Linked DNA regions of Homo sapiens. The protein of the gene in region 2 purifies or fractionates together with the protein of the main gene of each other region. This does not show direct contact. Each region holds a gene or a part of one and is shown on either strand. Other genes may lie near its edges.

What was found.
Region 1: the proteins of KCMF1 (region 2) and NIPSNAP3A purify together in Homo sapiens (affinity purification with mass spectrometry; 6 studies listed by BioGRID and IntAct, with this or other methods). This does not show direct contact.
Region 3: the proteins of KCMF1 (region 2) and CEP85 purify together in Homo sapiens (affinity purification with mass spectrometry; 4 studies listed by BioGRID and IntAct, with this or other methods). This does not show direct contact.

What each region holds. Positions count from the first base shown.
Region 1 is NC_000009.12:104,750,677-104,757,704, reverse strand, and holds part of NIPSNAP3A (protein NipSnap homolog 3A), read right to left. Parts: intron 6,750-7,028; coding exon 6,539-6,749; intron 4,800-6,538; coding exon 4,641-4,799; intron 3,155-4,640; coding exon 3,005-3,154; intron 1-3,004.
Region 2 is NC_000002.12:85,044,144-85,051,171, forward strand, and holds part of KCMF1 (E3 ubiquitin-protein ligase KCMF1), read left to right. Parts: intron 1-1,960; coding exon 1,961-2,135; intron 2,136-5,222; coding exon 5,223-5,505; intron 5,506-7,028. UniProt on the Homo sapiens protein: E3 ubiquitin-protein ligase which accepts ubiquitin from an E2 ubiquitin-conjugating enzyme and then transfers it to targeted substrates, promoting their degradation by the proteasome.
Region 3 is NC_000001.11:26,237,194-26,244,221, forward strand, and holds part of CEP85 (centrosomal protein of 85 kDa), read left to right. Parts: intron 1-517; exon of another isoform or gene 518-695; intron 696-2,568; 5' UTR 2,569-2,590; coding exon 2,591-2,645; intron 2,646-6,972; coding exon 6,973-7,028. UniProt on the Homo sapiens protein: Acts as a regulator of centriole duplication through a direct interaction with STIL, a key factor involved in the early steps of centriole formation.

The sequences.
Region 1 (7,028 bases), on a different chromosome or scaffold from region 2:
ATGTAAATACACGATATGACGTACATGTATATCGATTTCTGTATTACGTATGTATTACATAAAGAAGGTCATACTACATTTCCAATGTTTCTTTAATGTAAACAATATTAACATAAACTTCATTTGAGCACAACTATGTGTTTATAATAATACTTTCGATGACAACTACTGACATTTATTGAATGATAACTATGTGTCAGGCCTAGTTTTAAGCATTTTAATGTATTAACTCATTTAATCCTCATAATAATCTAGGTCCTCATAATAATCTATCATTTTATAGATGAAAAAACTAAGGTATGGTGAGGTTTACTTACCCAAAGTCAAAAAGTAAGTAGTGTACCTGGGATTCAAACCCAGGCAGTCTGAATCTGATTATTTCCTTAATATAAAGTAGAATTTAAGTTGACAGAACCAAAGAGCATGTCTTATATATATGTACTTACATATAGTGTATATAGTATACACTGTCCTCCAGAAATGATGTACTGATTACCAATTCTCCTAACACTGAGAATGAATTTAAGATTAAAAAGTGTATGAACACACATTTTCTGTAGTTTTTAAAAAAATAAAACTTAATATGTGCAGTATAGAAAATTAAGGTAGAGGCTAGGTGTAGTGGCTCAGGCCTCTTATCCCACCACTTTGGGAGGCCGAGGCGGGCGGATCACCTGTGGTCAGGAGTTTGAGACCAGCCTGGTGAAATCCTGTCTCTACTAAAAATACAAAAATTAGCTGGGCATGGTGGCACACAGCTGTAATCCCAGCTACTTGGGAGGCTGAGGCAGGAGAACCGCCTGAACCAAGGAGGCGGAGGTTGCAGGGAGCTGAGATCGTACCTGCACTCCACAGAGCGAGGCTCCATCTCAAAAAAAAAAAAAAAAAAAGAATATTAACATAGAGACTTAACCATTTATCTCACTGAAATATGACTACTATGTATGTTATATACTTTCAAATTTCTTTTCTGTATAATTTAGCACACCTATACACATACACACCCAGGCATATTTTCTAGAAGTAATACTGGCAAAAACAATAAAAATAAGGCTTTTATTTTTATTGTCAAATTTTGGGGGAAGATTAAGCTAATATGAACCCTACACAGTATCTGAGTACTTATTTTTTCCTGACCTAATACTATATCCATGTAAGTATACCTTTTATAAGGTAAAGAAATGGCATCTCATTATTGTTTTAATATGCATTTTCTTTAATATATATTTAGTAGCCATGTGCATGTCTACTTTTGCATAAATTTTTATTTTTATTTTTGCTTTTGAATTTCATTTATGGTGATTTTCAGGCATCCAGATAGTTTGAGCCTTTGTATAATAAAATCATAAGTTGATTTTTTTTTCTTCATAGTTTCTTCATTTGCTTTTGGCTTACAAATATAGTCCCAATCCACATTATTAAATAAATTCATCTACATTTTGTTTTACCAATTTTATGAATTAAATTTTTTTCATTAAAATATACAATCCAGCTTGACTTTATTTTCGCATATGGTGTGAGATAGGCATCTAATAATTTTCATAACAGTTTCTCCTCCATGTATTTTCCAACCTGAATATACATCTGTTTTTATATATTCTATTTTCTTATGATAGATTATTACAAGAAGTTGAATTTCTGCATAAAGATGGGTATATTAGGTTTGAGATGTCCATTGGACATAAAGAGATAATAGAAAGGCAACAGGATATTATGATGAGTCTTTCAAATATTTGTTAGCTATTCTTAGACATTTATCCTTTCTTCGTTACTTTTTTTTTTTAAGAGACAGGGTCTCACTATGTCGTTCAGGGGTTGGAGTGCAGTGGTGCAATCATAGCTTACTGTAGCCTTGAACTCCTGGCTCAAGCAATCCTCCCACCTCAGCCTCCCAAGTAGCTAGGACTACAGGTGTTTGCCACCATGCCCAACTAATTCTTAAAATTTTTTTTGTAGAGACAAGCTGTGTTGCCCAGGCTAGTCGTGAACTCCTGGGCTTAAGCAATCCACCAGCCTCAGCCTCCCAAAAGCGCTGGAATTACAGGTATGAGCTACCTCATCAGCTCTTTTATCCTTTCAGATAAACTTTACAAATGTTTTTCTGAATTTGCCACAAAAAATCTTGAAATTCTGATTGAAATGTTTTTCAACATTACAAGTTAAATACCCCAAGTATGTGTTTTATTAAATAAATTTATATCCATATATAAATTTACCTCAATATATATACATATTTACTATATCTCCCTATATAGATATATATAAAACTGGTGGAAAATGGGTAAATTTTTATGAGGGGGGTTTTCATATTTATACAAAACATATATTACTTTTTTGCTTAGAGATAATCTCCCTACCCCAAATAATATTATTTTTAAAAAATCAATAAAAGTACATTCAGAGGAAAAAGAAATGATGAAAGTAACAGACTATTTCTTGAGGTTCCTTCATTTTTTTTTTTTTGAGATGGAGTTTTGCTCTTGTCACCCAGGCTGGAGTGCGATGGCACGATTTTGGCTCATTGCAACCTCCGCTTCCTGGATTCAAGTGATTCTCCTGCCTCAGCCTCCAGAATAGCTGGGATTACAGGCCCCCACCACCATGCCTGGCTAATTTGTTCTATTTTTACTAGAGACGGGGTTTCACCATGTTTGCCAGGCTGGTCTCGAACTCCTGACCTCAGGTGATCCACCCCCTCAGCCTCCAAAAGTGCTGGGATTACAGGCCTGAGCTACCGTGCCCAGCCGAGGTTCCTTCAGTTTAAAAAATTTAATCATTTTGATGTATCAGGGAAAACAGCTATTCAGCATTTGAAGGTTTCATAAGTTAACATTCTAAATAAATAAGATGTAAAACAGATTTTCTCAATTTTAAAAATTACAAAAAACTAAACATTTGGCAATAAATAATAAAACATACTCTATAATGAGAAAGAACCTGACCCAAGGAACTTAGGTCACAATATATATTACAATTTCATATAAGAAGAAATGGACAATTGTACCTCTGTTGAGTGCTCCGTACTCTGTGTGGAACACTCCAACTAGTTTTGTGTAGCCTAGATTGACATGAGCATGAACTGCCCTTTTAAATGCATCACCCCACAGAGCTGGCCCACCAGGTTTCATCTGAAAAGTGGCCAGTTCATAGACTCCTGGAATAGGGAGAAAAAGAATTTTTCAGAAAACATTCAAGCAATATCCAATCACGTTTCTCAGTGAATAGTCTTTCACTATCTACACACACAGATTTGGAGGATCAGACATGCATACATATTATGTAGACATGTTTATTATATTTGCACTCTCTGCTTTTATGCTTAGAAAGTCCTTGCCCATGTTTAAGAGTGAGTTGTTATGCTTAATCATACAGATGACAAAGAAAAAGAACTGGAAGCTATTATAACTATTATCTGAAATATTTTTAATCTATAACATTTGTTAAAAAACTGTTGAGAATGTATAATGATATAGAATTTTGAGCTGCAAAAGTCTATGCTTTTAGAAAATAAAAGAATAAAAGAAGAATTTTCCAATCTATATTTTCATTCTTTCCAATTTCCACTATGTTTTTCTTCATATAATTTCTCCCTATAAGTTTCCATTTTTAACAGGAACAGCAAAGCAAAGAGTGGACCTGAAGTGATATCTTTGAATTTTGGAGGAAAAAAGACAAACCTAAAGAGATGGTTTTATTTTTCCTAAATATCCAGGTAAATACTTGAAAAGTATTGTACACTTTGGACAGAAGTATAGGGCTGGTGGAGAGAAAGAAACTCTGGGACAAGTAGGAAAAGCATGTAAAAATTTCCAAGCAGTGATGTACACAGAGGAGGAGAACCAAGATTTGACACTGTCAGAGAAGTGAACTATTTTATTTAGATAGTGCTGAGAGCTGAGGGGACACCTAAGTAGGTAAAGATCCAAGGAAGACTTTGTAAATTTTTTGTAACCTAAATACACTACAAAGTTGGGAATAATGGGGGAAGTAAAATAACATTTAAATAAGTTTATGCTTTTCTAATCTGACCTTTATTTAAAACTGGATTGAGGTAATAGTTTCTTTAAGTCAGCAAGAAGTGAAATCAGCAAGAAGACAAATCTTAAGCAATTACTTTCAAACTGAGAAACAAGAAAGAAGACACAAAAGTTAGATTAAAGTAATATAGCTTGGCAGTTTCACTTAATCTGTTTCCCCCAAATACTCAGTTTTATAAGCAAAGCTGTATTTAATGATTTAAGATTAGTTATAATTTATGGAAATACTTTTACATTTTAAAGATCATATTATTTTAAAATTATGGCAAAACTTCTTATGCTATCCCTTACCTATCAACACGTTCTCTGCTCCCAATGCACAAATTCTCAACCTCTACTGACCATGTCAGCTTTCTCTATAACACAGTTAAGCTTTACAAATCTGCAAGGTCTCAATTTGAAAAATATCTCATTATTTTATGCTCATTTTTTTAAAGGATGGGGTAAGAGCTCCCATTTATTTTTACCACAACAATCACTGTATGTTTCTATATAAAACAAAGAATTAATTTTATTTTTTTCCAAAGGAACTTCAGTTTTGATCACTTAAGTTCTTTAGTATTTTATTCATCAAAACTCAGTGACTAAGAAGGAAGGACTTACCTTCTTTTGGAGGTTTTTCTAATTTGCACCATGGTACCAGATAAGTAATCTCACTCTCTTGTTTATCAATGAGAGCCAAATTTGGAATGAGGAATTGTTCTTGCCATTCCTTATCTTTGGCCAAGGCTTTCCGAACTTCAGTTCGATGAGCAAAATTATCTGTGGGAAGAAAAGAATTAAGAAAAATAAAAAATTCAATTTTAAATCACCTGTACTTTTCTGGGTTTCATTCACATCAGCAATGGTCATTGATGCCATATAAGAACCTTGTGTTAGGCCTTTGGAGACACCAACGTAAACAGATGTGACCATCTGCCCTGAAGTTGCTCAAGGACAAAAAGGGCAGTAGAAATGCAAACTAACTGTAATGCCACATAATAGGCTTTATAGGCTCAACCATATAGTAGGCAGTTTTGTGAATTAGGTAAGTTATTGAATCTTTCTGTGCCTCACTTTCTGTGAAATTGAGATAATAAGACATCTACCTCCAGGGTTGTATGAGGATTAAATTAACACATGAAAAGAGTTTAGAATATAGCGGTTGGCACTAGTTAATACTCAGTATATGTGAACTATTCTTACTTGATTGAGGCATTTAACTTATAGTGCTAGTTTAGAGAAAGACTGTTTTTCTTTGGTGGTGGTGGGTAGTCAAGTTCAGATACACCCTGAATCAAATTTAACATGAGTGAAGTTAAAACATCTTGAATCAAATTTAACATGAGTGAAGTTAAACCGTACTTTTTAAGCCTCTTCTCCTTTGAACAAACAGATTTCAAAGAAATAATGCTGATTCTCTTATTGTCATCCATTCTTTCTCCCCAGCACTTATTTCTCTTCTATTTAAGTTACCCAAACAGTTATATACATTTGCCAACATATGGGCCTAGTACTATAATTACCATTAGGACCTCATAAGACTAATGGCAAGAGAGGTTCATATGGTTTACATTGGGATAAGGAAGAATACCTATCTTACAACTTAAGTGAGGTATATCAGAACTTAGTTTTTTTAATGGGCTGTGATACAACTTGTACCACATCTAAAGCATAAAATGTATTTTAATGGGGCTTTTTCTATTAACAGGGAAAAACCCTAAACCAAACACTAAATGAAATTATTAAAAATTCTTTAGGTATCATCAAGTCCTGATGTAGACACTGGAGTAACAAGCATTCTGGGCATTCTTGTAACTTATTCTCCTTCCTCTACTAAACCAGGCGTAGGTTAGTTTCAACACGGGAAGAACTCTCTTTCATTCCTTTTCTTTTACCTCCCTAGAGTAGTATGACAGTGAATTCCTCAAAACTCTGGGGGTACAGATATGAAACAAATGTGGTCTCTAAACATAACAGAATTATTAAATCTCAGAGTTCAGTGAGGATTGAAAGTTAACCATCATCCCCTATAAACCTCCATATTGTGAAGTCCCTTAAATGGTTGAATTATTTCTGCTAAAATACTGATATCCAGCCCCCTAGCTTCAAAAAGAGAAAAGATACTTCTCCTTTCCTTTTGTGATCTTAATCCACTTGGACTTTTACAATTGCTGCTTTAAATTTTTCATGAACTATCTTTACAGCAAACCATTTTAATATTTTTCTGAGGTTTAAAGTCTAGTTCACAATTTTATCGCTTGATATATGAGATGCCATGTCTTCCAATTTATAATGTAATATAATGTAATGTTTAAGCAAGGGGTTAGAGGTGTACCACTGGGAAGAATAAGAACTGAATTTATTTTTTTGGTATTGCTTTTCAAAAGTCTTAGTTAACCTGTATGTATCTAAAATAATATACATCCAAGAACTAAGTTTTATGTTACATTTAACAGAATGAAAATCTATACTGAAAAATGAAAATCTATACTGAAAGCCAAAATTGGATGACTCTTTACCATACTTCCAAATATGAAACACTGTATTCATTCTGCCTCCAAATTCTACACTCCAGTATCCAACCAATTCAGAGTGAGCTGTCCGAAGATGAGCGTTTTTCTCAAAATTTTCCAGGAACTCATTCATCTTTGAGGGCTTAAGGTAATAAGAACGAAATTCATAGAATATTCCATCGTATTGTCTGGGTCCCGTAGCAAAAGATGAGCACATCTGAAGAAGATAAGACAAATGTAAATATCTTGAGAAGACAGGATTCATTATATTGTGTTAAAACCTAATCTGAATCTGGTACAAGGGACACTCATAGACTCATTACTCATGTTTGTACTTCTGTTGTCAATTCTCAATATGTTACTGATGGAGGGTGTCCAGGTTCTTGGTGTTTGAACAAAGAACTGGACAAAATGCACAAAGCAAGGAAAGAATGAAGTAACAAAAGCAGAGATCTATTGAAAATGAAAGCACACTCCACAGGGTAGGAGTGGGCCT
Region 2 (7,028 bases):
ATTTAATTAGTTAAATATGAAGAGGCATTATTTGCTTTCCCTCTCTGTTCCTCTGCTGCCTTACCCTGTTGTGGGTGTGGTGTGGTGAGATGGTGGGGACAGGTGTGCATCTTGGTGTTCCTTTCCTTTTTGGGGTCCCCTTCTCCAGAGAGAGCCATTTCCTGCCGAGTTCCTGAGTAGGATAGCATAAGGTCAGCTCTAGCTTTAAATTTCCTTTCCTGCTTTTCTTTTCTTTTCTTTTTTTTTTAAAAGTCGGAGTCTTGCTCTGTCAGCCAGGCTGGAGTACAATGGTGCTATCTTCAGCTTATTGCAACCTCCACCTCCTGGATTCAAGTAATTCTCCTGCCTCAGCCTCCCAAGTAGCTAAGATTACAGGTGCCCGCCACCACACCCAGCTAATTTTTGTATTTTTAGTAGAGATGGGGTTTCACCATATTGGCCAGGCTGGTCTCTTGGCCATGCTGGTCTTGAACTCCTGACTGCCTGCCTCAGCCTCCCAAAGTGCTGGGATTACAGGCATGAACCACTGCGCCTGGCCAATTTTTGTATTTTTTTAGTAGAGATGGGGTTTCACCATGTTGGCCAGGCTGGTCTCGAACTCCTGACCTCAGGTGATCTGCCCACCTCAGCTTCCCAAAGTGCTGGGATTCAGGCGTGAGCCACCACGCCCAGCCTCTTGCTTTTATTTCTGCATTCCCTTCCTTGTCTCTCAACAGTTTCTGGCAGTGTTCCCTGAGATTACTGGCCTACCAGAGCGATTAATTTTGTGGACTCAATGCTTCTGATTTCAGGTTATGAATTGTTCGTCTAAAACTGTCACCAGCTGGGTACAGTGGCTCATGCCTATACTCCCAGCACTTTGAAAGGCCAAGGTGGGAGGATCACTTGAGCCTAGAAGTTTGAAACCAACCTGGACAACATAGGAAGACCCCATCTCTACCAAAATAATGAGCTCAGCTGGTGGCACACACCTGTGGTCCCAGCTACTCAAGAGGCTGAGGTAGGAGGATCACTTGAGCCCATGAGCTCAAGGCTGCAGTAAGCTATGATTGCACCACTGCACTCCAGCCTGGCAACAAAGTGAGACCCTGTCTCAAGATACATATATATATGTATATATAATCATAATATAAAATTATCAAATATATAAATATGATCATATCACTTTCTCTAGAACCCAAACCATCCTCATGAATATGATGGAACAGGGCATGTACCGTGACACCTGAAGGCCTCTTGGAGCTACCCATCCGGTCCTTAAATAACTCCAGAACCATCAGCTGAAAAACTGAGAAGCCAGCCAAAAAATTAATCTGCATTATAAAGCTGGTCTGTTTGGTACTTTAAAGGAAAAATCTCTTCTATATGATCTGGCCTCCCCCACCTCTCATTTGCCTTTGTGGAAACGTAAGGTTGTCTTCATGAGTTTTGACAGCTATTTGCAACTCAGGACCTTTTTCAGTTTGACTTACACTCAGCTGTGTAAGACGGTTGAGGCTGCTGGGAATTTTTCTTCGTGATAAATGTCATGTTAATCTATCTGTGTGTCTTATACAAGAAATGCAAATCTGTTTTCTGCTTAGCAGCGGCATTGGAAAGAAGCTTGAAGACAGAGTAAAACTAATAATCCAAAAGGAACCTTTGATGTGCTGAATATACATTCAGTATTGTTCCTTTTTCATTATAGGTGGTATTTGAGATTTCATGAGCTATATAGAGAAACTTTTTTACCTCACACACCCAATACACACACACACACTCACATGTTGCCTTACATTTGAGTGTCTTTTTAGGGTTAATAGCCCTCATAGATAGAGTTGGGACATTTGCACTTTAAGTTAAATGTGCTGTTTTTAAATGCTTACAATTCAGGAAATCTTTACATCTGTCTAGCAAGGACTCAGGTGATTTTTTTTCTTTCTGTGAAATACTTTCGTTTTTTTCTTAACTTTTGGGTTATGATGAATCGAGTGGTGTTCGACATGTACGTAGAATGTTTCACCCTGGCCGGGGATTAGGAGGTCCTCGTGCTCGTAGATCAAACATGCACTTTACTAGCAGTTCTACTGGTGGACTTTCTTCTTCTCAGAGTTCATATTCTCCAAGCAATAGGGAAGCCATGGATCCTATAGCTGGTAAGTTAGTTTCACATTAATAAGGGAAATGGCAGGGGAAGGAGGAGCTCCTTTTAAAACTTTTTGTGATGCCAGGTGCGGTGGCTCACACCTTTAATCCCAGCACTCTGGGAGGCTGGAGCGGGTGGATCACTTGAGGCCAGGAATTCAAGACCAGCCTGGCCAACATGGCAAAACTCCATCTCTACTAAAAATAAAAAAATTAGCCAGATTTGGTGGTGGGTGCCTGTAATCGCAGCTACTCTGGATGCTGAGGCATGAGAATCGCTTGAGCCTGAAAGGTGGAGGTTCCAGGGAGCCGAGATCGCACCACTGCAGTCCAGCCTGGGTGATGGAGTGAGACCCTGTCTCAAAAAAAAAAAAAAAAACTTTTTGTGAGATTTGTGTTCTTAAGTCTCACCTCTCTGATCATAAGCCATGTTCCTTCACAAAATTCCCAAATACATTAAAAGTGTAAAATGTGTTAAAAGCAGACACTTAACATAAAGTAATTCATACTCTTCTGGCATTGCTTAAGTCCAGTAGTCCCCCCGTCATGTGGTTTTGCTTTCCTGGGTTTCAGTTACCCACAACCAACTACAGTCAAAAAATAGGTGAGTACAGGACAATAAGATACTTAGAGAGAGACCACATCACATAACTTTCATAGTATATTTTTAGATTTACTCTATTTTGTTGGGAATCTCATGTTCCTAATTTATAAATTAGGTGCCTAATTTATAAATTAAACTTTAGCACAACAGATAAGTATGTATAGGAAAAAACATAGTATGTATAGGGTTCTGTATTATCCAAATGCCCATTTCAGCCATTCACTGGGGGTTTTGGAACGTATCTCCTGCAGGTAAAGGGAGACTACTGTTCTTAGAGACAAAAGATGATAAGAAATGGTTTTATGTTGTATTTGTGGCCTCTATTGAAGCCCAAGGAAATCATAAAAGATTTCAACTTGAATACCTCCAAAATGTCATGGTTAAATCTCCATAAGTACACATAAAAAAATGTCCAAAGCACATTTGAAATTAAGGTTTTATAAGGTATAGCTAACATTTTTAAGAACATGTTATGTGTAAAATTCTGTCACAGATTTATGCCTATCTCAGATGTTGTGCAAGGCGCCTCATGGCTTCCAGGTACACATTCCACCACATGGACACATTTCAGAACTGTTATCTATAGCTAATTGAAAAGACTAAAGAATTAAGCTCTTCTCATGGAAGAAAGGAAAGTAGGACTTAATGTCCTGACCTTGATTTGAGAACTATATTGTTGTAGAACATACTGAAAGGTACATGTTTAATAGCTTGGGAAAAATCTTAAAAAAAAAAAAAAAAACACAGTTTTTGAACCTGGCCATGTCACTGAGTCTAGTACATGACAAACCTAGGAAGTTGGTAGCAGAACACAGGGTCAAAATAAAATACAAGAAATCACTGTAGCCTGATAATCTGCAAGACACACCAAGCAGACAAGTGGTAAGACAGTGGGAAGTGTGCACACATTTAAAGCAACAATTCTGAAATGTGTCCATGTGGTGAAGTGTGCACCTACCTGGAAGCCATGAGCACCCTGCAGAACACCTGAAACATTGATAAGTGTAAATCTGTAATAGAAACTGAGAACATCAGAGCTAAATGACAACTTAGGAACACAAAGGAGGAGACAGCAGACACTGGGGGAGGGTAGCAAGAGAGAGAGGAGCAGAAAGATAACTGTTGGGTACTGGGCTTAATTGGGTCCTGGGTGATGTAATAATATGTATGACAAACCCTCGTGGCAGGTGTTTAACTGTGTAACGGACCTTCACATGTACCCCCAAACCTAAAATAAAAATTTAAAAAAGAAAAACAACCTAAGAACAATTTTATACCTATCATGTTATTTAAAAGTTAGATATACCATATAAAATTTTAATTCCAAATGTGCTTTGGACATTTGTGTGTGCAACAACAAAAACAAGCCTAATAAACTGAGTTTGGGGGATTTAAAAAATATTTCTTCATCCAAAGGGAATATTTACCTGCTATTTTGGTGGCAGGCACTAAAAATTAAAGTAGTTTCTGGGAGCAAAATTCAAAATTGAGAAATTTTCTTCATTTGATTTTTTTTCTGTCAGTGAAAATTAGTTTATTTTAGTGATAGACTGTATATTCCATGAAAGAGTGGTATAAGAGTGCTATAAAAAGCCTGGGATAAAGCAACAGTGAGCAAGAAAACAAACTGTTAATGAGTTTTAATGATAAAGAGTTTTTGCTGGCCTGAAAGTGTCTGCAAGGCAGTCATCGATTCCCTATAAGCGAGGTGGACCCTCCACTTGGAAGAAGGCATTTCACTGTACCTTACTTAGATGAGGATGCGGGGACAAAAGTTTACACCTCTCTTAATGAGTACAGCCTTATGGACACAAGACAGTCTGGATCATAACAGGCCACTAAGTAGGCTGTACAGTCAGATGCAGCAGGTTCTCAGGAGCCAGTCAGCCTTGCTGAGCACTGGTAGTGGTATCTACTGCAGTGGTACTCTGAAACAGCAGTACCAGAAGGTACTAGAGGGAGAAAGCAGAGGCAGAGAGTGTGCAAGGGCCACCATCAGAAATGATCCAGGCCTCTTGGACTGAATCCTAATAATTCATTCAGTCATTCAGTAAATGTTTGAATTCCTGCTATATCAGGCCCTGTTCTGATAGCTGGGAATATAGTCAACAGTAGACCTCATCCCTGCTTCCATGGAACACATATTGAGAGAGCTTATATTATAATTGGGCCCACAGATAAACCACTTCATTAAATACTAAGAGAAAGCTTCACTAAATTAGTCTATTATGCAAATAATTTTAAAGACAATTTAAGTTTTACTTCAAACATAATTCAGTCTGGGTTAATATTCGTATGCATTTGCATTCTCTGTCCACAGTAACTCCTGCCTTCAGGAGGCATTCTAGAAGGATTCAGCTCTTAAACTGTGTGCTGTGGTGGTTACCTACCTGTTCACAATGCTTTTGATGTTGTTCCAGTAAAAGAGTGATCTGTAGCGTTTTGTTTTCCTCAGTATTAAGCAGACATTAATTGTCTTCATTTCCATTGGCAGAGCTTTTATCTCAGTTATCAGGAGTGAGACGTTCTGCAGGAGGACAGCTTAATTCCTCTGGCCCTTCCGCTTCTCAGTTACAACAACTGCAGATGCAGCTGCAGCTAGAACGGCAGCATGCCCAGGCAGCACGGCAACAACTGGAGACCGCACGCAACGCAACCCGGCGTACTAACACAAGCAGTGTCACCACTACAATCACACAATCCACAGCAACAACCAACATAGCTAATACAGAAAGCAGTCAGCAGACTCTACAGAATTCCCAGTTTCTTTTAACAAGGTAGCTCATTTGTTAATAGAATTTTGTTTGGGAAGTAATATTTTATTGCCACTACAGTCTGGAATTATCTTTTCTCTTTTGTGCATTATATTTCTTTAAAATTTTGTGTTTGATTAAAACTCACAGATCTCTGATTAAAACGCATATTCAGTATTTCCCCAAGAATGTGAAACATAGTAATTATTTTAGATAAATTAAGAATACTGGGCCAGACCCAGTGGCTCACACCTGTAATCCCAGCACCTCACACCTGTAATCCCAGCACTTTGGGAGGCCAAGGCAAGCAGATCGCCAGAGCCCAGGAGTTCCAAACCACCCTGGGTAACATGATGAAATCTTATCTCTACAAAAATGAGCCAGGTGTGATGGTGCGCACCTGTAGTCCCCGCTACTCAGGAGGCTGAGGTGGGAGGATCGCTTGAGCCCTGGAGACAGAGGTTGCAGTAGCCAAGATTGCACCATGCACTCCAGCCTGGGTGACAAGAGTGAGACCCTGTCTCTAAAATAAAATAACTGGTCTTGTTCTCAAGGTATATATCATCATATAATATGAATTGTTTTGCCATAGTACCCATAAAACTTAAACACTATATCATTATATATATATGGTTCATATTAGGTGTATTTATCATAATTAACGTTGCTTGTTATTGCCAGTTTTAATCTGCTTTGAAATATTAAAAGTATAAGAAGGATTTCATAATACAGTGGCAGTTTTCTCCTGTGAATTTCTAAAAAAGCTAGATTTAAATTTTTATGGTTGGCACACAAAAGTAACTTAAAAAAATGGCTTCCTATGGTATAAATAATATTTAGTAAAACAGTAAACTACTCTACTAGATGGAGTTCTTGTTTGCTTCTGAAACTGTTAGCAACTGCATGTATTTGTCTGCCAAAACTTCACAGGCATTTTATGTGACTTTTAGGAATATAAAGAATTCTTAAAAGAGCAATGATGAGTGGAGACTTAGCCTCAACAGATAATGAACCTGGACTAATTGGGCTTTTAAGGGAGCAGAGAGGAACATAAAGGAAGAACTGTAAAATGAAGAATAAAGTTTGTGTAATACATGATTATTTCCAAAATGCAGTGTGTATGACAATTCATTGGGATGTTAGAGGAAAATATTATAATTTCTACTTATGTTTCTTTTATCTCATACTCTGTTAATACAGTGGTGCATGTGTATAGTTATAAATAACATATTGTGGGTGCAGAATAAAAAATGCTTGAAAATCCCTGGGCTAGAGCCCCAGCTTTGCCAATTACAAGTTTTGGACCTCAGGCAAGTCATTTCACTCCTCCAAACCTCAATTTTATCATCAGTATCCCAGAAGTTTTGCCTTTAGAGAGATAATTATTTTGAGGATTAAATGGAATACTGGTATGTGTATGGTCTGGCTCACTATCTGGCCTATAGTAAAGGTCCAATTAATGGTACTCGTTATCAACATTTGTTATGAAACCAAGAAAAACATTTTAAATGGGTAATTTACCTTTGAATTATCTCTGCAAGGTCAGT
Region 3 (7,028 bases), on a different chromosome or scaffold from region 2:
AATTTTTTTTTTGGCTTATATCACATAACATAAAATTTAATTTTATGTGTGTGCAATTCAGAGGTTTTTAATATATTGGCAAGGTTGTGCAGTCAGTCACCACTATCTAATCTCAGAACATTTTGATCACCCTGAAAAGAAACCCGGTATCCATTAGCAGTCCCTTCCTATTCTCCTACCCTCCCTCCTCTCAGTCCTTTGCAATCACTAATCTGTGTCTCTATGGATTTGCCTATTCTGACATTTCATATAAATAGGATCAAGCCTTTTGTTTGGCTTCTTTGACTTTGCATGTCTTCAGTGTTCATCCATGTTGTCACATGTATCAGTACTTCCTTTTATTGCTGAATAATACTCTGTTTTTTGGATATACCACATTTTATGTATCCATTCATTAGCTCATGGACGTTTGTGTTGTTTCCACTTTTTGGCTATTGTAAATAATGCTGCTACGAACATTCTTATTGAAGCTTTTGTGTAAACCTGTGTTTTCATTTCTCTTGGGTGTATACTTCAGTGTGGAATTGCTGAGTCATAGGGTAACTCGGAGTTCTCCTTCTGTCACCGTATTTTCAACTTGTCTGAATTTAGAAACACCTTAGAATCCAGTGCGCCTACCATTTTGTTATCCTTTAAAGAAAGGAGTGAAGAAAAGGATTTTGATATTGACAAGAAAGGAAATCACTAGTAAGGAGGTAATCTAATCATTCTATGTCATCATTTAACTCACTGAATCATACTTGCCATAAACTAAAGCTTTTATTACTGAACAAAGCTTCCCTCACCCAGTATGTGAAGAACTGGAATTGTGGAGGATGATACCCTTTCTATTGTAGATGCAGTGAATTAATAAGGGTTTGGGTTGTTATGTACTTTAGTGACCTCTATAGTATTCTCTTAGTAACAAGAGAATACTATAGAGGTCACTAAAGTACATTAGAGAAATAGTACCATATAGTCTTTTTTCTCCAGAGTGATAGAATTATGTTCTGTGAATTGTCCCAAACTCTTTTTTTTTTTTTTTTGAGACGGAGTCTTGCTCTGTCGCCCAGGCTGGAGTGCAATGGCGCGATCTTGGCTCACTGCAGCCTCCGCCTCCATGGTCCAAGCGATTCTCCTGCCTCAGCCTCCCAAGTAGCTGGGATTACAGGCGCCTGCCACCATGCCTGGCTAATTTTTGTATTTTTAGTAGAGACGGGGTTTCACCATGTTGGCTGGTCTCGAACTCCTGACCTCAGGTGATCCGCCTGCCTCGGCCTCCCAAAGTGCTGGGATTACAGGCGTGAGCCACTGAGCCCGGCCGAATTGTCCCAAACTCTTTTGGGGCTTTTATAAATTTAGAGTTTCTGAGTTGATACTCCTTGATCTTCCATGGGCTGTACAGTGCTACTTTTGTTGATGTAAATTGCCAAGTAATAACAGCACTTAGTATGTGTCAGGAACTGTTGTAAGTTAATTATAAGTGAATTAACATGAATTAGGTTGTGTTGTTATCCTCATTTTTATATGAAGAAAATGAGGAACAGAGATACTAAGAAATTTGCCCAAGGTTACACAGCTAATAAATTGATAACTTAATGTTTAGTGGGTTCAAGTGTATTTGTTTAGACTTCAAATCCACTTCTGCTGAATTCTCAGCACCTACCCCTAGTGTACTGTAAATATAAATATTTTAAGGAGTGAGAACATGGGACGAGAACTTCACGTTCCTAGCTCAGGATTGGAGTTCTACTTATGAGCAAGAATTCTTTCCCATCTTTTTACATCGTATGACTGACTTTAATTACTGGAAGAATTGAGGAATTTGTTTTGTGTTAATCATAATTGATGCTGTAATACTTCACTGTTGGTTTAGTTCTTTAGTTCTTTATCCACCTCGTCCTGTCATCAGGTCCCCATGGCTAAGAAGATTCATGGTAAAGTTTGTTAATTAAAAGTAATATTTTTAAATTTTATAAAAATCAGAAGGGTTCTAGGACCGTATGGAATCTGTATTGGTAATCTCTGGTTCTAGGTTTTCTATACTGGATTTGGGAAGAGAAGTAGAGTGGAGTATTGGGATTTACTTTGTCTTAAAAATATCCTTAGAAGTAAAACATGTAAAAACATATTTACTCCTAAATATCCTTAGGAATATAACATTTAGAATACTGGAATATTCTTTTTTATTTTTTTTGAGATGGAGTCTTGCTCAGTTGCCCAGGCTGGAGTGCAGTGGTGTGATCTTGGCTCACTGAAACCTCTGCCTCCCGGGTTCAAGCAATCCTTGTGCCTCAGCCTCCCAAGTAGCTGGGACTACAGATGTGTGCCACCATGCCCGGCCAATTTTTGTGTTTTTAGTAGAAATGGGGTTTCCCCATGTTGGTCAGGCTGGTCTCGAACTCCTGACCTCAGTTGATCTGCCCGCCTTGGCCTCCCAAAGTGCTGGGATTACAGGTGTGAGCCACTGTGCCTGGCCAAATACTTGAATATTCTATATGGTTTTGACAGTTTCAGTTGAATGGGAACTGAGTTGCGGGGAATTAAAGATACTTCAGAGAACTGACTGGTTATTCCTTCATTCTACAGTTGGCTTAAATAACTGTGATTGATGGCCATGCAGGAGAAATATCCAACTGAGGGGATCTCTCACGTCACTTCACCGAGTGAGTAGTCAGAAGTTTTCTGGGTTAAATTCTGACCTTTGTTCTGTTTTTTCATATTCCTTAAGGTAAATATTGAACAAACAAGCATTCACTGAAATGCTGGTGCTAAAAGAATAAAAATAACATGGGGCTTCATTGAATATAAAAACAGGTCTCTGAGGGAACAAGTATTTATCTCTTGTGCTATGTGGCTTTCAACAGGACCACGTGGTTGGGAGAGGACGACATATAAAGGATTGGAACAGAATGACTTTGGAACATAGTTCCATTTGAAATCAGAAAAACACAGCATAAATTACTGTGTTCTATGTTGTCTTTGTCCTCTGGGTGGGTCAGTCATCTGCTAGCCCACAAAAATAGGAATTCTGCTTGGATGCCAACAGATTCCGTTGCATTGTTACTAGAAACTCAGGAATTTATCTTCAGAATGGATTAACAAGATTTTGAAACTTCAGTAGATATATTAAATATATACAGTCCTTAAGTGTCCATGGCGGACTGGTTCCAAGACCTCCTGCAGATAGCAAAATCCACAGATACTCAAGTCCCTGATATAAAATGGTGTGGTATTTGCATATAACCTGTGTATATCCTAATGTTTACCTTAAATCGTCTCTAGATTACTTGTAATACCCAATGCAATGTAAATGCTATGTAAATAGTTATACTGTATTGTTTGGGGAATAAGAAGAAAAACAAGTCTTATGCACATTCAGTAAGATACCATTAAAAAAAAAAATTGGTTGAATTCACAAACGTAGAAACCACGGATATGGCCAGGCGCTGTGGCTCATGCCTGTAATCCCAGCACTTTGGGAGCCCAAGGCGGGTGGATCACCTGAGGTCAGGAGTTTGAGACCAGCCTGGCCAACATGGTAAAACTCCATGTCTACTAAAAATACAAAAATTAGCCGGGTGCAGTGGCATGTGCCTATAATAATCCCAGCTACTTGGGAGGCTGAGGCAGGAGAATCACTTGAACACGGGAAGCAGAGGTTGAGGTGAGCTGAGATGACGCCACTGCACTCCAGCCTGGGCAACAGAGTGAGACTGTGTCTCAAAAAAAAAAAGGGGAAAAAAAAGAAACCATGGATATGGAGAGCTGACTGTATATTAAACACATAAATATATGTATGCACTGTGCAGGCATATTAAGTAGATAATATATATTTCAAATAAGTAATATTTTAGAAAAATGACTTGTTGAATTCTGGGGTATTGGTAAAGAAGAGGGCACGTTTAATTCAACTCAGGGTATGTTTTATTTAACTTTAAAATCTCACAGTGCCTTACTCAGCGTAGATATTTGGTAAATGTTTGGTGTATTCTCTTAGGCATGCTGCCTTGCATAGAGTAGGCACCATTATAAGCTTTGGTTGAATCAATTCAAGATTCATTCAGCAGAATTTTTTTTTTTTTTTTGAAATGGAGTCTCGCTCTGTCACCCAGGCTAGAGTGCAGTGGCGTGATCTCGGCTCACTACAAGCTCCGCTTCCCGGGTTCATGCCATTCTCCTGCCTCAGCCTCCCAAGTAGCTGGGACTACAGGTGCCCGCCACCATGCCCAGCTAATTTTTTTGCATTTTTTAATAGAGACGGGGTTTCACCATGTTAGCCAGGATGGTCTCAATCTCCTGACCTTGTGATCTGCCCGCCTGGGCCTCGCAAAGTGCTGGGATTACAGGCGTGAGCCACTGCACCCGGCCTCAGGAAATATTTTTTAAACATCTGCTATGTGCTGCACATTCTCTTAGGTTTGTACAGTTTCTATGACAATTATGTATATAATGCAAGTTTTTGGAACAATGCCTTTCCTATGGCTTTTTTCTCTCTTCAATAGTATCTCATTCAGATTAATAATGGTCTTAATAATTGATAAGGATGCTACTGATAGGACATGCACTATAACACAAAAAATTTCAGCTTTTCTTTTTTTTTTTTGGAGACGGAGTCTTGTTCTGTGGCCCAGGCTGGAGTGCAGTGGCACAATCTCAGCTCACTGCAACTTCTGTCTCCTGGGTTTAAGTGATTCTTGTGCCTCAGCCTCCCAAGTAGCTGGGATTACAGGCATGCACCACCACACCTGGCTAATTTTTTTGTATTTTTAGTAGAGACGGGTTTCGCCATATGCCCAGGCTGGTCTCCAACTCCTGAGCTCAGGTAATCTGCCCACCCCCGCCTCCCAAAGTGCTAGGATTACAGGCATGAGCCACTGCACCCGGCCAACTTCAGCATTTAAACTTCAATTTTGAAATAAGTGTAAACCTCTATAAATATACCAAAATATATTTTTAACAAATAACTCTTTGGAATTAGGGTATGGAGTAGGTGGATGGAAAAATGGTAGCGATGAAGAGTGGAAGATTAGTAGTAGTAACAGGGAAGCGGTTTCCAGTAGGAAGTCAGGAAGATGGTAATAGAGGCCCTCAATCTTAACTGTTTCAAAAGGCCTGGCAAATTTTACACTGACTAGAGAGAAAAAGCTGTGTAGACTCACCAGAAGGTGGGATTTCTTTGCTTTGGGCTAGAATTACACCAACTTAGTATAGTAGCATTGGCTAATCTCATGCCGCTCAGAAACTCGGATTGTTGCCTGTGTCTTCTATAACAATTACAGATTACTGAGTGTATAAAGATTCTTTCAAATCAGGCAGTCACTGTGATCCAAAGAATAGAAGAAGTATTTGGGGAAAGTCAGGTTGCCTTCAGTAGAAAGCCAAAGTAAGGGTAGCAAAAAATGAGCAAAAGTAGAAGAAAATAGATTAAAAAGATGAGAGAAGCACTAAACTTGGAAGAAAGGAATAAAGTAATTTGTGTCCAAATTACTTTGGGCGTAATCATTTAGTGGGAGCAATCATTTGCCTCCCACTAGATCAGCGAGTCTGTAGAACCGTATTTTCTGAAATCGGCTTTCACACTTTAAGTTAAATGGAGGATAAGTAGCTGCCATTAGTTTTTTTGTTTGTTTGTTTATTTGTTTACATGGATCACCAGATACACCTTAGGAAAATTATAGTGGTTTTTAGAAAATAAATTTAAGTCTTTGCTAGAATGTTAGTGAATCAAGTATTTATTGAACACTTCCTACCTACCTCCCCCCAAACAGCATATTTTAAATCAAATAAATCTCATCAGTCTTTTTGTCTTAACCTTCTCAGCAGTTTTAGTGATATCTTCACGTTGCTCTCAAGATAAAGCCCTAGGCTCTTCAGATTGACTTTCAAAACTCACCTTGATCTCAATAGGATTCACCTATTGAGGGTACCCTGGTTCAGTGAAGCAGTGATTTTCTTTTTTTTTTTTTTTTTTTCTGAGATGGGGTTTCGCTCTTGTTGCCTAGGCTGGAGTGCAGTGGCGCAATCTTTGCTCACTGCAACCTCGAAGCAATGATTTTCAACTGGGGACTGGACTGCTTGTTGCCCTAGGAATCATTTGGAACTATATGGTTATTTTCTGGTTTCACAGTGATGGTGGTCTTGGTTGAGGGTTGCTGCTGGCATTCAGTGAGTGGGAACCAGGGATGCTAAACCATTCTGTAATGTATAGACTACACATTGAAGAATGGTCATCCCCAGAATGCCAAAAGCACCATTGAGAAACTGTAAGAAAGAGGAAAGAATGTGGGTTTTGGAATCAGAAAGAACTGGATTCAAATATCAGCCCTCCCCTCTGTAAAATAGGGGTGGTAATACTTTTCAGTAAGTAGGTAGGCAAGATTATGTTTGTAAGGTCCTGTGGCTTTACAGGTTTCAATAAATGGCCACTGCTATTAAATATGATTGTTTTCTGTTCCAGTACTCCTGGATTCTTCATGGGTCTTATTAACATCTTTGAATATTCTCACTTCTCATACTATTTCCACTTAAAATTAACTAGCTCAGGCTTGGCGCAGTGGCTCACACCTGTAATCCCAGCACTTTGGGAGGCCAAGGCGGGTGGATTATGAGATCAGGAGTTCAAGACCAGCCTGGCCAAGATGGTGAAACCGCGTCTCTACTAAAAATATAAAAATTAACTGGGCGTGGTGGTGGGCGCCTGTAATCCCAGCTACTCGGGAGGCTAAGGCAGAGAATTGCTTGAACCCAGGAGGTGGAGGCTGCAGTGAGCTGCGCGCCACTGCACTCAAGCCTGGGTGACAGAGCAGACTCCGTCTCAAAAAAAAAAAAAAAAAAAAAAAAAACTAGATCGGAGCAGCTGAAATAGGCACAGGAGAGAGAAAGGGGTGGGTTGCTGCTATTCTCTTAGGTTTATGTGATTTTTTAAAAAAAGATCTGATGGGGTTACATCAGCTGGTTCACAGTAAAGGTGGGAAATGCCTCTTGTTTCAGGTTCCGATGTGATTCAGAAGGGCAGTTCCCTGGGGACTGAATGGCAGACCCCAGTT